Homo sapiens: one gene and its partner. The protein of the gene in region 2 interacts with the protein of the main gene of each other region in a pairwise test. Each region holds a gene or a part of one and is shown on either strand. Other genes may lie near its edges.

Evidence for each region. The genes of interacting proteins can lie anywhere in the genome.
Region 1: the proteins of PRR5L (region 2) and MORN3 interact in binary tests that used the Homo sapiens proteins (3 or more experiments, as listed by UniProt).

The regions. Positions count from the first base shown.
Region 1 is NC_000012.12:121,648,242-121,652,654, forward strand, and holds the end of MORN3 (MORN repeat-containing protein 3), read right to left. Parts: intron 3,404-4,413; 3' UTR 501-3,403; downstream 1-500. UniProt on the Homo sapiens protein: Assembles a suppression complex (suppresome) by tethering SIRT1 and MDM2 to regulate composite modifications of p53/TP53.
Region 2 is NC_000011.10:36,291,610-36,300,112, reverse strand, and holds the start of PRR5L (proline-rich protein 5-like), read right to left. Parts: upstream 3,826-8,503; 5' UTR 3,675-3,825; intron 1-3,674. UniProt on the Homo sapiens protein: Associates with the mTORC2 complex that regulates cellular processes including survival and organization of the cytoskeleton.

The sequences.
Region 1 (4,413 bases), on a different chromosome or scaffold from region 2:
GGGTTCAAGGGATTCTCCTGCCTCGGCCTCCCGAGTAGCTGGGACTACAGGCATGAGCCACCACGCCCGGCTAATTTTTGTATTTTTAGCAGAGATGGGCTTTCACCACACTGGCCAGGCTGGTTTCCAACTCCTGACCTCAGGTGATCCACCTGCCTCAGCCTCCCAAAGTGCTGGGATTACAGGCGTGAGCTACCGCACCCGGCCGTCCTGGACATCTTTTACGTATTCCCCTAGGACAGCCACCTCCCTACTTCTGTAGGGATGCAAGATCCAGCTGGAATTATTTCTGGGCTAGGATCCTGTTGTCTTGGGTTCTTGTTCCTAAACTGGCCGGGACTCGACTCATCAGCCAGGCTTGTCAAATGCAGGTTTCGAAGCCCTTGGAGGATTCTGATTTAAGTAGGTCTGGGTGTGTCTTTGGAATCTATTTCTAACAAGCACCCCAGGTGCTCTCACACCCAGGCAACTTAGACAAACACTCCTAGTTAGGAGCACAGTCTCTTTAACTTCATTTTTATTTACATTTTGAATACATAATACATTCACATGGTTCCAAACACAACACTGAAAAGTTGTTCTTCAGCTCCTGTTCCCAAGTCCCCAATTCTCCCCAGAGACAACCATCTTTGCCAGTTTATTGTGTTTAAATCTAGCGACATTTTGTACATAAACAAGCACACCCTCTTCCAACATTTTTTTTTTTTTTGAGATGGAGTCTCGCTCTGTTGCCCAGGCTGGAGAGCAGCGGCACGATCTCGGCTCGGCGTGATCTTGGCTCACCACTACCTCCGCCTCCTGGGTTCAAGTGATTCTCCTGCCTCAGCCTCCTGAGTAGCTGGGATTATAGATGCACTCCACCACACCCAGCTAATTTTTGTATTTTTAGTAGAGACAGGGTTTCACCATGTTGGTCAGGCTGGTCTCGAACTCCTGACCTCTTGATCCGCCTGCCTCGGCCTCTCAAAGTGCTAGGATTACAGGCATGAGCCACCATGCCCTGCCCCCACTTTTTCTTTAAAAATGGTAACCCTTTACACTCTTCTGCACATTAAGAACAGCTAGACCTAAGTTTAAGCACAGTACTAGCTTGATGACTTGTGATCCTCCCTGAACCTGTTTCCTCCTCTAAAATGGCAGTAATAGCAAGACACCTCACTGTTGTCGGGGAGTGCCAGGAGAGAATGCTTGCTGCGAAGCTGTCAGCACACGGCCTGGAATAGAGTGAGTGCTCCATATCTGGAAGTTATGATTAATTCTGCATCCTAGGGTGGCCAGGCGGGGCTTCCCAGTGCCAGAGGTACAGACTGAGAACCACACCCTTGGTGAGGCCACCCTACTTATGACTTAGGGGGCAGAGAGAACCTCAGTAAGGTCAGTGGTGTTTATTGAGGCTTTACTATGTGCTATGTGCCTCTTGCTGAGGTCTTAGCTAGAATCGTGGTATTTCAGGGTTTCTCAACATTTTTTTTTTTTTTTTTTTTGGAGATGGTGTCTCGCTCTGTCGCCCAGGCTGGAGTGCAATGGCGCAATCTCGGCTCACTGCAACCTCTGCCACCCAGGTTCAAGCAATTCTCCTGCCTCAGCCTCCCAAGTAGTTGGGATTACAGGTGCTGAATTCTTTTTTTTTTTTTTTTTTGTAGCATGGTGATATTGCACTATGCTTAACCGCATCCCTGGTCTCTACTCACTCAATGCCAGTAGCCTTCTTCCTGCCTGTTGTGACATCAAAAATGTCATACATTGCCAAATGTCCCCAAGAAAGAGTGGGGCTGAGGGAGGACAAAATCCTACCCACAGTTTAAAACCACCGCCTTATCTCATCCTCACAGTAACTAACCACAGTAACCCCAGGTGGTAAGTACTGTTAATGCCCCATATTGCAAGTGAGGAGACCAACAGAACAGAGTTTGGGTGACATTCCTGAGAACACACAGCTCCGAGATTCACGCCCAGGCACTGTGACTCCAGAGCTCACCTGCCCATTATGCAAGAACATCTGATCTTGGCTGGGAGCAGTGGCTCACACCTGTAATCCCAGCACTTTGGGAGTCCAAGGCGGGCAGATCACGAGGTCAGGAGATCGAGACCGTCCTGGCCAACATGGTGAAACCCTGTCTCTACTAAAAATACAAAAAATTAGCCTTGGTGGCAGGTGCCTGTAATCCCAGCTACTTGGGAGGCTGAGGCAGGATAATCGCTTGAACCAGGGAGGCGAGGTTGCAGTGAGCCGAGATTGTGCCACTGCACTCCAGCCTGGGTGACAGAGCAAGACTCTGTCTCAAAAAAAAAAAAAAAAAAAAAAAAAAGGCCAGGCTCGATGGCTCACACCTGTAATCCCAGCACTTTAGGAGACTGAGCGGGGCAGATCACGAGGTCAGGAGTTCAAGACCAGCCTGACCAACATGGTGATACCCCATCTCTACTAAAAATACAAAAATTAGCTGGGCTCAGTGGCATGCGCCTGTAATCCCAGCTACTCAGGAGGCTGAGGTAGGAGAATCGCTTGAACATGGGAGGCAGAGGTTGCAGTGAGCTGAGATCGCGCCACTGCATTCCAGCCTGGGCAATAGAGGGAGACTACGTCTTAAAAAAAAAAAATCACCTGGGGAATTTTCTGAAAGCTCAGGCCTCACCCCAGATGAATTAGATGTGAACCTGTGAATCTCTGGGCATGGGACCTGGGCTTCCACAGCTTTGCAAAGTTTCCATGGGATTTCAAGGTTGAGAGCCCTGTGTTAGGCTGAGAAGTGGTCAGGAAATTTTATGATCTCCAATCTTGGCAGCCAGTGTGGCAGGATACAGGCCTTCTCTCTGGGTCATCTGGGTTATCTCACAGGGGACCTGCCATTTCTTTCTCTTTTTCTTTTCCTTTCTTTTATATTTTAAAATTTTTTTTTGTAGAGTCAGGGTCTTGCTATGTTGCCTAAGCTGGTCTCGAACTCCTGGCCTCAGGCAGTCCTCTTACCTTGGCCTCCCAAGTTCTGGGATTACAGGAATGAGCCACTGCACCCGGCCTAAGACCTGCCCTTACTCCCCCAAGCTAAACCCAGGCAGCCCAGCCAAGGCAGGTCTTCCCTCTTCTAAACCTGAAAGCCCTGCTGAGCCCCCTCGAGTGCCCCATCCTTATCCCATAGGCCCAGGCTTATACCACTTGGTTATTCTTTATTCTCATGCATTCCAGGATGAGATCAGAGAATGAAGAGGGTCCCGAGGACAGCCTGGGAGAGAAGCACCAGCCTTCCTATTGGCAAGAAATGACCCAGTGCTGGGGGTAGTGAGGGGCCCTATGAGGGTGCCGGGGTCATGCCTGGAGCTGCTGCTGACTCCTCCAGCCAGAGCCGCACTGGTCTGAGCGATCGGGTGACACAGGCTTGAATTTCTCCTGAAGCGTTTGTGTTCTCTGCAGGGGAGAGAGGGATGGTGGAGCTGGCATTTGAAAGACGCTGTTACCAATGTCCTCTCCTCAAACCCTCACATCATGCCCAGGAGGACTTGGACTGGACAAGACCCCACTGGACAGATGTGTAAATGGAGGCTGAAGGCCAACTGCCTTACTCAAGGGTGTTCAGAAGCCAGGAGACCACCTCCTTTCAACCCCGTGCCCAGCTCAGTTGTGTGGCCCAGGGTGCAAATAGAAGGTTTCAGGCAGGACTGGAATGCACTGGTCTTCAGTGAAATGGTTTGTTTGTTTGTTTATTTGTTTGTTTGTTTGTTTTTTGAGACACAGTCTCACCCAGACTGGAGTGCAGTGGCACAGTCTCAGCTCACTGCAACCTCTGCCTCCCAGGTTCAAGCAATTCTCTGCCTCAGCCTCCTGAGTAGCTGGAATTACAGGTGCCCTCCCCCACGCCCAGCTAATTTTTGTGTTTTTAGTACAGATGGGGTTTCACCATCTTGGCCAAGCTAGTCTTGAACTCCTGACCTCGTGATCCACCCACCTCGGCCTCCCAAAGTGCTGGGATTACAGGATTATAGGATTACTGTGCCTGGCGAGTTTTGTTTTTTTTGAGACAGAGTCCCATTCTGTCGCCCAGGCTGGAGTGCAGTGGTGCAATCTCAGCTCACTGCAACCTTCACCTCCCGGGTTCAAGTGATTCCCCTGCCTCAGCCTCTCGAGTAGCTGGGACTACAGGTGCCTGCCACCACACCTGGCTAACTTTTATATTTTTAGTAGAGATGGGGTTTCACCATGTTGGCCAGGCTGGTCTCAAATTCCTGACCTCAACTTATCCGCCTGCCTTGGCCTCCCAAAGTGCTGGGATTAAAGGCAAGAGCCACCACAGCCGGTCAAAAGGGGTTTTGAAGAGGAAGCGTCAAAAAGGACACCTGGGACTGTAGGAGGCAAGAAGCCTGCCCTCGATGGTCTTGCTCCCCCACTCCCCGACCCCAAGCCCTTTGGAGACCCCAGGA
Region 2 (8,503 bases):
ATTTCTACAAAAAAAAAAGATATTTCACTTGTACTTCATTATTCTGCTGATTAAATTATAGTGGGGCAGGGATGGAGGACTTTCAAGCAGTCAAAGACTTTCCTGGGTACACAGAGCTCATCTCACAACATACTTAAGAAAGCTCCTGATGCACCTGTCACTCCTGTTGCCAGCCCCTGCATCACAAGTGGTGCAAGCAGCGATGAAGTGTTTGTCGTTGTTGTTGTTGTTGTTGTTTACCTTTATAGTTTTCTGCTAAGAAGAAAACATTTTAGCAGCACAGACCAAACTCCAGTAGGTAAAAGCTCTAAGAAGCCTGGATGATGAAGGCCCAGAGAAGTAAATAATGAAGTGGGTTAAAGCTTGAATCTCTACTCCCCTCCCCGCCACTCGCTGAATAATCTCTTTTGGGTGAATTCGTTAACCTTTCTGAGCTCCAGATTCCTCTTCCATATGCAGAAGAACTCCTAGGGTTCTTTATGAAAACTAAATGAGATGCTATTTGTGTAGCAGGATGTAAAAATGACTATGGTCTCAGTTCAGGTATTGCCAAGGACAAAAGACATGTTTCAAAGTGAGCTGTGACACTGAGGCCATCATGCAGGGCTGACAAAAGAAGTGGCACGAAACTGGTTTCCCTCTTAACTGACCATCTTCAGCCCACAAAGAAAGCTGGGTGAGAAGAACAGTTGGTGGTGTAGAGGAGGAATTTTGGAGAAAGCAATAGGAGCACTCCAAGTCCCAATTGCCCACTACCCACCCTCCAAGATTGGCCTCCAAGATGCTGTGTCCCTGGAGGTTGACTGTCACTGAGGGCTGATGTCTGAATCATGTCTGTGAATCCCAAAATACAAGAGAGATGGAGTGATCAGCTGGAGTGGAGAGAACGTGGTAGCTTTGGATTTCCTGGGATAATGAAACGAGCATTTTCCATAAGCCAGAGATGTACTGTGGCCAACCTCTGGGATGTGTAGGTCCTTCTGACAAGGACCACCAGGAGGAATGGAAATTTACCTTCAGAGAAAAGCTGACAGCACTTGTTGTGGCCTCAACTATCCTCCCAAAATTTATATGATGAAGCCCTAACCCCCAGGACCTTAGAATGTGACTGCATTTAGAAGCAGGACCTTTAAAAATGTGATTAAGTTAAAATGAACCCCTTAGGGTAGGCCTTAATCCTCTCTGACTGCTGTCCTTATAAGAAGAGGACATTTGCACATGCCAAGAGACACCAGGAATGCACACACAGAGGAAAGACCATGTGAGAACTCAGTGAGAAGGTGGCCATCCACAAGCCAAGGACAGAGACCTCAGGAGAAAACAAACCTTCCAACACCTTGATCTTGGACTTTTAACCTCCAGAACTGGGAGAAAATTAAGTTCTGTTGTTTAAGCCCGGGGCCCCCAACTCCCGGGCCATGGACCAGTACTGGTCTGTGGTCTGTTAGGAACCAGGCCACACAGCAGGGACAGAGAGAGCACGAAGCTTCATCCATATTTACAGCTGCTCCCAATCATTCACATTACCACCTGAGCTCCACCTCCTGTCAGATCAGCAGCAGCATTAGATTCTCATAGGAGCACAAACCCTATTGTGAACTGCGCATGTGAGGGGTCTAGTTTGCATGCTCCTTATGAGAATCTAATGCCTGATGATCTGTCACTGGTTCCCATCACCCCCATATGGGACTGTCTAATTGGAGGAAAACAAGTTTAGGGCTCCCACTGATTCTACACTGTGGTGAATTGTGTAATTATTTCATTATATATTACAATGTAATAATAATATAAATAAGGTTCTCAATAAATGTAATGCACTTGAATCATCCTGAAACCATCCCTACCCTGGTCTGTGGAAAAAAGTGTCATCTACAAAACTGGTCTCTGGTACCAAAAAAATTGGGGACTGCTGGTTTAAGCCCCTCAGTCTGTGATATTTTGTCATGGCAGTCCCAGCAAACTAATACGGCACTGCTTAGATGCCAGGGAACTAAGGAAGGAGTCTTATTAGGCAACCAGCTTCAAGGGACCAGCAACTCAGAGATCCCCAAAGATGAGAAATAATGGTGCTCTCTGAAGTATCCACAAGATTGTGCCTAGAGAGAAAGAACTAGGTTTACACACCCACCAGAACCTGCCACTGAAATGCCAGCTTGCCACAGCATTAACCAAGTACGGACTTCCAGCTCCTTTCCTGCCTCTTCTCTTTTCCCCTTCCCCCTGCCAGGAGTCAGAATCATCAGTAAGCCAGAGGAGAGAAGGATGGAAGCTTAACGTGGGAAATGAGAAGCCAACCACAGACCCCCTTTCCAAGCTGCAGGCCCCACTGGAGGAGGGAGAAAAGTCTCCACTGGGAACCAAATTCAAAGATCTGGCTGATTCCCTGGGACTGGACATCCCAATTGCTGAATGAGGCTGTGCTGGAACTAAAAGCGACTTAAGAACTTTTGATTCCTGAAGGGGGCCCATAAGAGTTGTGGACCTACCTTAATTTTCATCCCAGGGCAAGGGAAGAGGGAGGACCTGCTGAAAAAAATTAGGGACAATGATAGGCAAAAATAAAGTTTGCTTCCATAATATACCATGAGTCCTGTGTATTTGACGTATGTTCTCTTACATATGAGGCAACTTAGCCTGGTCTCTGGCCAAAAAAGAGATACCACTCATTGAGCAATTCTTACCCTTTCAAATTCCTTCACTGTCGTCATTGAGCAATTCCATCTTCTTCAAGCAAGACAAAAGCTGATGCCAATAGAAAAATCATTTAAAATAAACAAACGAAAAAATTCCTTAAGCTGTCAACTTGGGTGCAGATGTTCTATGAAGCCAGAAACTGAATGTCACCCTCTATACACCATGACCTAGAGAAGCAGAATAACTCCAGACCAGCAGGGCTGGGCGGGTCTAAGATTCCCATACTACTTAAGAGAAAACTGAATTCAAATCCAGGCTCTGCCATTTAACAACTGTGTGACCCCGGGTGAATGACTTAAATTATCCGTACTTCAATTTCCTCATCCATAAAATAGAGATCATAAAGTATCTATCTGATGAAATAGCTGCAAAACAGTTAGAATGCTGCCTGGCACAGGGCAAAGGACTCACAATACACATAGCTATCATCATATATCATTGCCTCTCAAAGTGAAATATTGTGATGACCTTGGTTTATTAGCAGGATGTTGTAAAAAAAAATGCTTTACAAGGGGCATGATGACGAAAAGCGCAGATTCTAGAACCCGACTCCCTGGGTTTGAAAGAAGCAAGAATCTGAGGCATGTTGTATAAGGGTTTGCTATCATTACTATTCATTCAATGAGAGACATACAGTAATAGGTATACATATGCAATACATAGAGAAAGAGCTTAGTACTAGCAGCTATTATTAAGGCAACAGCCACCTCAGTAAATCTACATGGGCCATGAAGACCCTGGTCACCCAGAGATATCAGAGGCACTGAACAGGGCCAGACAGACAGAGGGTATTTTTCTAACTGGGAGGCTGCTGAACTTGACCTCTGTTGCTTTTCATTATTTATTTAACAGCAGATGGTGGCTTTCAAGAAAATCGGATGTCTTGAAGCCAGAAACCCATCCTCCTTGGGCTGGATACTCAGCCATCCCCTGCAACCCCACCCCCTAGCCCCAAGCTCTCATTGTCTCTCTTGTGTTACCTGGTCTGGTTTCTTCTTCCAGGGCAGGTCCCACCTTGCTGGGGAGAGGTGAATGACCATGGCCTTCCAGCCTCCCGAGAAGGGGATGTTCCAACGGGCGCAGAGATCTCTGGGCCTGGCTTGCCACTCACTGACCTGGGGCCTGAAGACTGACAGAGAAGCAGGCAGAAAATATAAAAAGCTGATACCCCCTGCAGGAAATCATTGTTTAGCCCATTCCAGACTAAAAAAACAAGTGCAACATTGGAGAAAGGAGGGTAAAGTGTCATTCGGGGCCATTGTTACAGCGGCTGCTCTGTGTGGTGGGGAAACAAAGCAGGCCTGTGTATGTGAGGACAATGCTGTTGTGTTACTAGCTGCTTCTGTGTTACTCCTGGGGACAGGAGGATGAGAAACGAGGCCACAGTGTCTTCCCTGGTGGACTTCACTCATCATAGTAGCCAGGCCAATCAGAGCTGGGAGAGGAATTTTGGACATTTAGCCCATGGCATTATGTAATAAGGGTCAGGGGACGTGCCTTCAGGTGTGACCACCTGCCTCTTTGTTAGTCTTCTATACATGAGAGATCACAAATGTCCCTCTCCTTTTCTCTTACTTGCTTTCAGAAACTTACCCCAAGTTAGAGCTGAAAAGAATGAGACATATCATTTCTCTAAACACAAATGTCATCCACTTCAATGCCTAACTTTTGTGATGGGACATCTGGCTGGGACTAAACCTCAGCCATGCAGCACGTTAGCAGCAGTTGGCAAGACTAGATGAATATTATAAAGCTTGCACCCACTGAACCCCCATAATGAACCAGACACTAGGTCATGAGCAACCTTGCAAAATGACCTCATTCGCTCCTGACTTCAAATTCTGACTCTGCAACTATTACCCATGGACTGTGAGCAAGTGTTTTCTCTGGGTGTTAGTTTTCCCATCTGTAAACCGGGATTATGATTGGGTTCCTAGGAGGATTAAATGAATTAATATATGCAAAACTCTTAGAACAGTGGCTGGCCCATAAAAGTGATCAAGAACCACAAATCACAAATTAGATGCCCACATTACACCTGAAACTTGCTTGTACTCATGAGGAGATGGTATGGGGATGGCTGGAAAGCCAGGATCCCAAGTGTCTGTATTTAGCCCTGTTACCTACTATGGCCTAAGTTCACCCTGTTAGGTCCCTGAAGGAATTGGGCACTAATAAATATTCTCAAGTATGAGACAGGTGACAAATGTGTGGAGAGGGCCCACTGTGATGCAACAGTGTGTGGCGGGAACTGTGGGGATTTGAAAGCTCACACCAGTCTTCAGAGGGCAGCCAGGGCTCAGCCTCAGCCAAATACTGCAATGCAGAAAGGTGGAAACAGCATGGTTGGGCCTGCACATTTTTAAAGAAAAGCCAGAAGGCTGGATTTTTTATGTCGAGTTTTCCAATTTTGAAACACTGTGGACCAAACACAACATTGTTAATGCAATGTGAGCCCTAGATCATGCAGTTTGTGATGCCTGATCTGGAAATTTCCAGATTTCCAGCATTTCCAAGCCAGTGCAACCCTGCTGACACTCAGAGCTTTTGTCCCCAACTTGCGCTACGGTCTGAGTGTATGCGTCCCCCACAAATTCATATGCTGAAATCTTCACCCCCAGGTGATGGTATTTGGAGGTGGGACCTATGGGGGGTGATTAGGTCATGAGTGTGGAGCCCTCATGAATGGGATTAGTGCCCTTATAAAGAGGCCCAAGAGAGCTCCCTTGCCCACAGCCACCATTTGAGGACACAGTGAGAAGACACCATCTGTGAACCAGGAAACCGTCCTCATCAAACATAGAATCTGCCAATGCCTTGGTCTTGGACTTCCCAGCCTCCAGAACTATGAGCAACACATTTCTGTTGTTGATAAAGCCACCCAGTTTATGGTATTTTGTTATATTAGCCCATATGGACTAAGACGACTGGTGAGCTGATCAGGCCACGTCAAAGCCACAAAGGGGGCATAAAGTCAAAAAGATTGATCAGCCCTTTCCCCCTGCAACCCACCCTCATCTCTGGACTGAGACAAAGGTGAGGAAAAGGGAAACTAGGGGAATAACAGGAGGGTGGCAAGGGCTCTCCTTAAAGGACTGCAGGACCCTGGGCCTAATCCACCTCCTGCAGGCATTCCTCTGACAAAGAAGGCAGCCAGGACTTAGTAGTGAAACCAAAGGGGAGAATAGGAGTTTATTTAAGCTTCCATAACCTTCATCAGTTACCTCAAATGAACCAAAGTAGCGTAAGTGACAAAATGTGTTTGCTATGCAAATGCACCTTAAAAACAAGACTGCTCACAATGAGATACCACTTCATACCCGCTAAGATTGCTATAATCAAAAAGACAGAACCAGTTACAAAATGTGTTTGATATACCAATGCAACTTCAAAACAAGACGGCTCACAATGAGATACTACTTCATACCCACTAGGATCACTATAATCAAAAAGGCAGAGCCAGATGCAGTGGCTCCCATCTGTAATCCCAGCTACTCAGAAGGCTGAGGCAGGAGGATCGTTTGAGGCCAGGAGTTTGAGACCAGCCTGAGCAACATAGCAAACATATGTTTTAGAGACAAAACATATTTTTTGTCTCTAAAACAAATAAAATCAAATTAGCTGGGTATGGTTGTGCATGCTTGTAGTCCCAGCTACTCAGGAGGCTGAAGTGGGAAGATCAGTTGAGCCCAGGAGTTTGAGGCTACAGTGAGCCATGATTACACCACTGTACTCCAGCCTGGGTAAAAGAGCAGAGACCCCCATCTCTCTGTCTCTTTTTTTTTTTAAACAAATGTTGGTGCAGATGTGGAGAAATTGAAACCCTTATACATTGCTTCTGGGGACTGTAAAATGGTGCAGTCACTTTGGAAAATGGTCTTACACTTCCTCAAAAGGTTAAACACAGAGTAATCATATGGCCCAGAAACTCCACTATTCCACTCTTCAGTGTATACTCCAAGAGAAATGAAACACATGTTCACACAAAAACTTTGTACATGATTGCTCATGGCAGCATTACTCACAACAGCTAAAAAGTAGAAACAACTCAAATGTCTACAACTGATGAATGAACAAACTATGGTATATCTGTACAAAAAAATATTATTCAGCAAAAAACGAATGAAGTACCGATACAGGCTATAACATGAACGAACCTTGAAGAAGTTTCTCCTCTTATGCTAAGTAGAGGAAACGAGTACAAAACATATGATATGTGGTCTTTTGTACTCGTTTCCTTTACTTAGTATAAGAGGAGAAACCGTATCATATGATCCAATTCATGGGAAATGTCCAGAAGGCAAAACCATAGAGACAGAAAGCAGATTAGCGATTGCCTAGGGCTGGGTGTGATGGGGAGAATTGGGGGCAGAGGTGGGTGTTGATAGCTAAAGGATATGCTGTTTCTTTTGGGGATGATGAACATGTTCTAAAATTAATTGTGGTGATAGTTGGACAACTCTGTGAGTATACTAAAATTCATCGAATTTTACACTTCAAATGGATAAATTGTATGGTATGTGAATGTTAATTCTATTTCAATAAAGCTACTATAAAAAAACCCTCAATACTAAGATTGCTGCCCTTAATCATTTTCTACTAATAAATTCTGTGTCCATATCCCTTGCTTCATATCTGCCCCACTGGAGAAATCAGGGCAAGTGTTCCAAAAGGCTGGTTTCCCCCAAGGCTCAGGGCTCAAACTTGGGTGACTAACTGGCCTGGTTTGTCCAGAACTGTCCCAGCGCTAGCCCTGAAAGTCCTGCATCCAAGGAAACCCCTCATCCCTGGGAAAACTGGGATGGCCAGTCCCCCTCGTGCAAACCCTTGCCCACAACAGGGGAAAGCTCTGCCCTTTAGCGTTGCCAATGACTAGAACTGAGAATCCACATAAGCAATCCTTCCCCTTTTGGGGTATAAGTCATCCTTGAGCTCCCCCTAATGGCCAAAAGGTATTTTTATTATTGTTCCCATTTTACGGATGATGAAATTGAGGTTCCAAGAGGGGAAGTAATTTGCTAACAGTACACAGGAGTTGGAAACTGAACCTAGGTCTTTTCCCAAAGCCCAAGGTAGCCCTTCCACTCACTCATTATATTGTTTCTCACCATCACCAGACTGATTGTACAGGAACACTCTTAGATTGTTCTTGCTGCCTGAGGAAGGTAGTCAGACATGCAAAGAGAAGAAACACAAATTTACAGCTGTGGGACAACAAGGAGACATGTACAGCTTGGCGGTTAACAGTGCAGAATCTGGAGCCAGACTGGCCATATTTGAATCTGGGCTTTGCCACTACTTAGCTGTGTGACCTCAGACTACTTAATCTGCCTATGTCTGTTTCTCCATATGTAAAATGGAAACAATACAGTGTGTGTGCTTATATATGTATATGTACTTATGTGTGTGTGTACATATGTGTGTGTATGTATATACATACGTATATATATAATATCATAGGATAGGAATGGGAAGTAAATTAATCAGTAAATGTAAGGGCTTAGAACAGAGCCGGGCACATAACAAGTTTATTAAATAAATGAAAGTCAGCACTGATTCCTATATTCAGAATTGGAAAGAAATTAGGTTTGGCCTAATGAAAACCAGGCAATGGGACCAAATCACAGAAATGAACTCCGACATTCTGTTTTGTTCCCACCCATGAAAATGTTTATGGTTTAGAAATTGCTGGACATTCTGCAGACCACAGACAAACCTTTACATGCAACATGGCATTGGCAATCTGGGCAGCCCTACCAAAATGGGATGACATGGTGCCATTCATATCATACCAGCCCGCGAGAGTAAG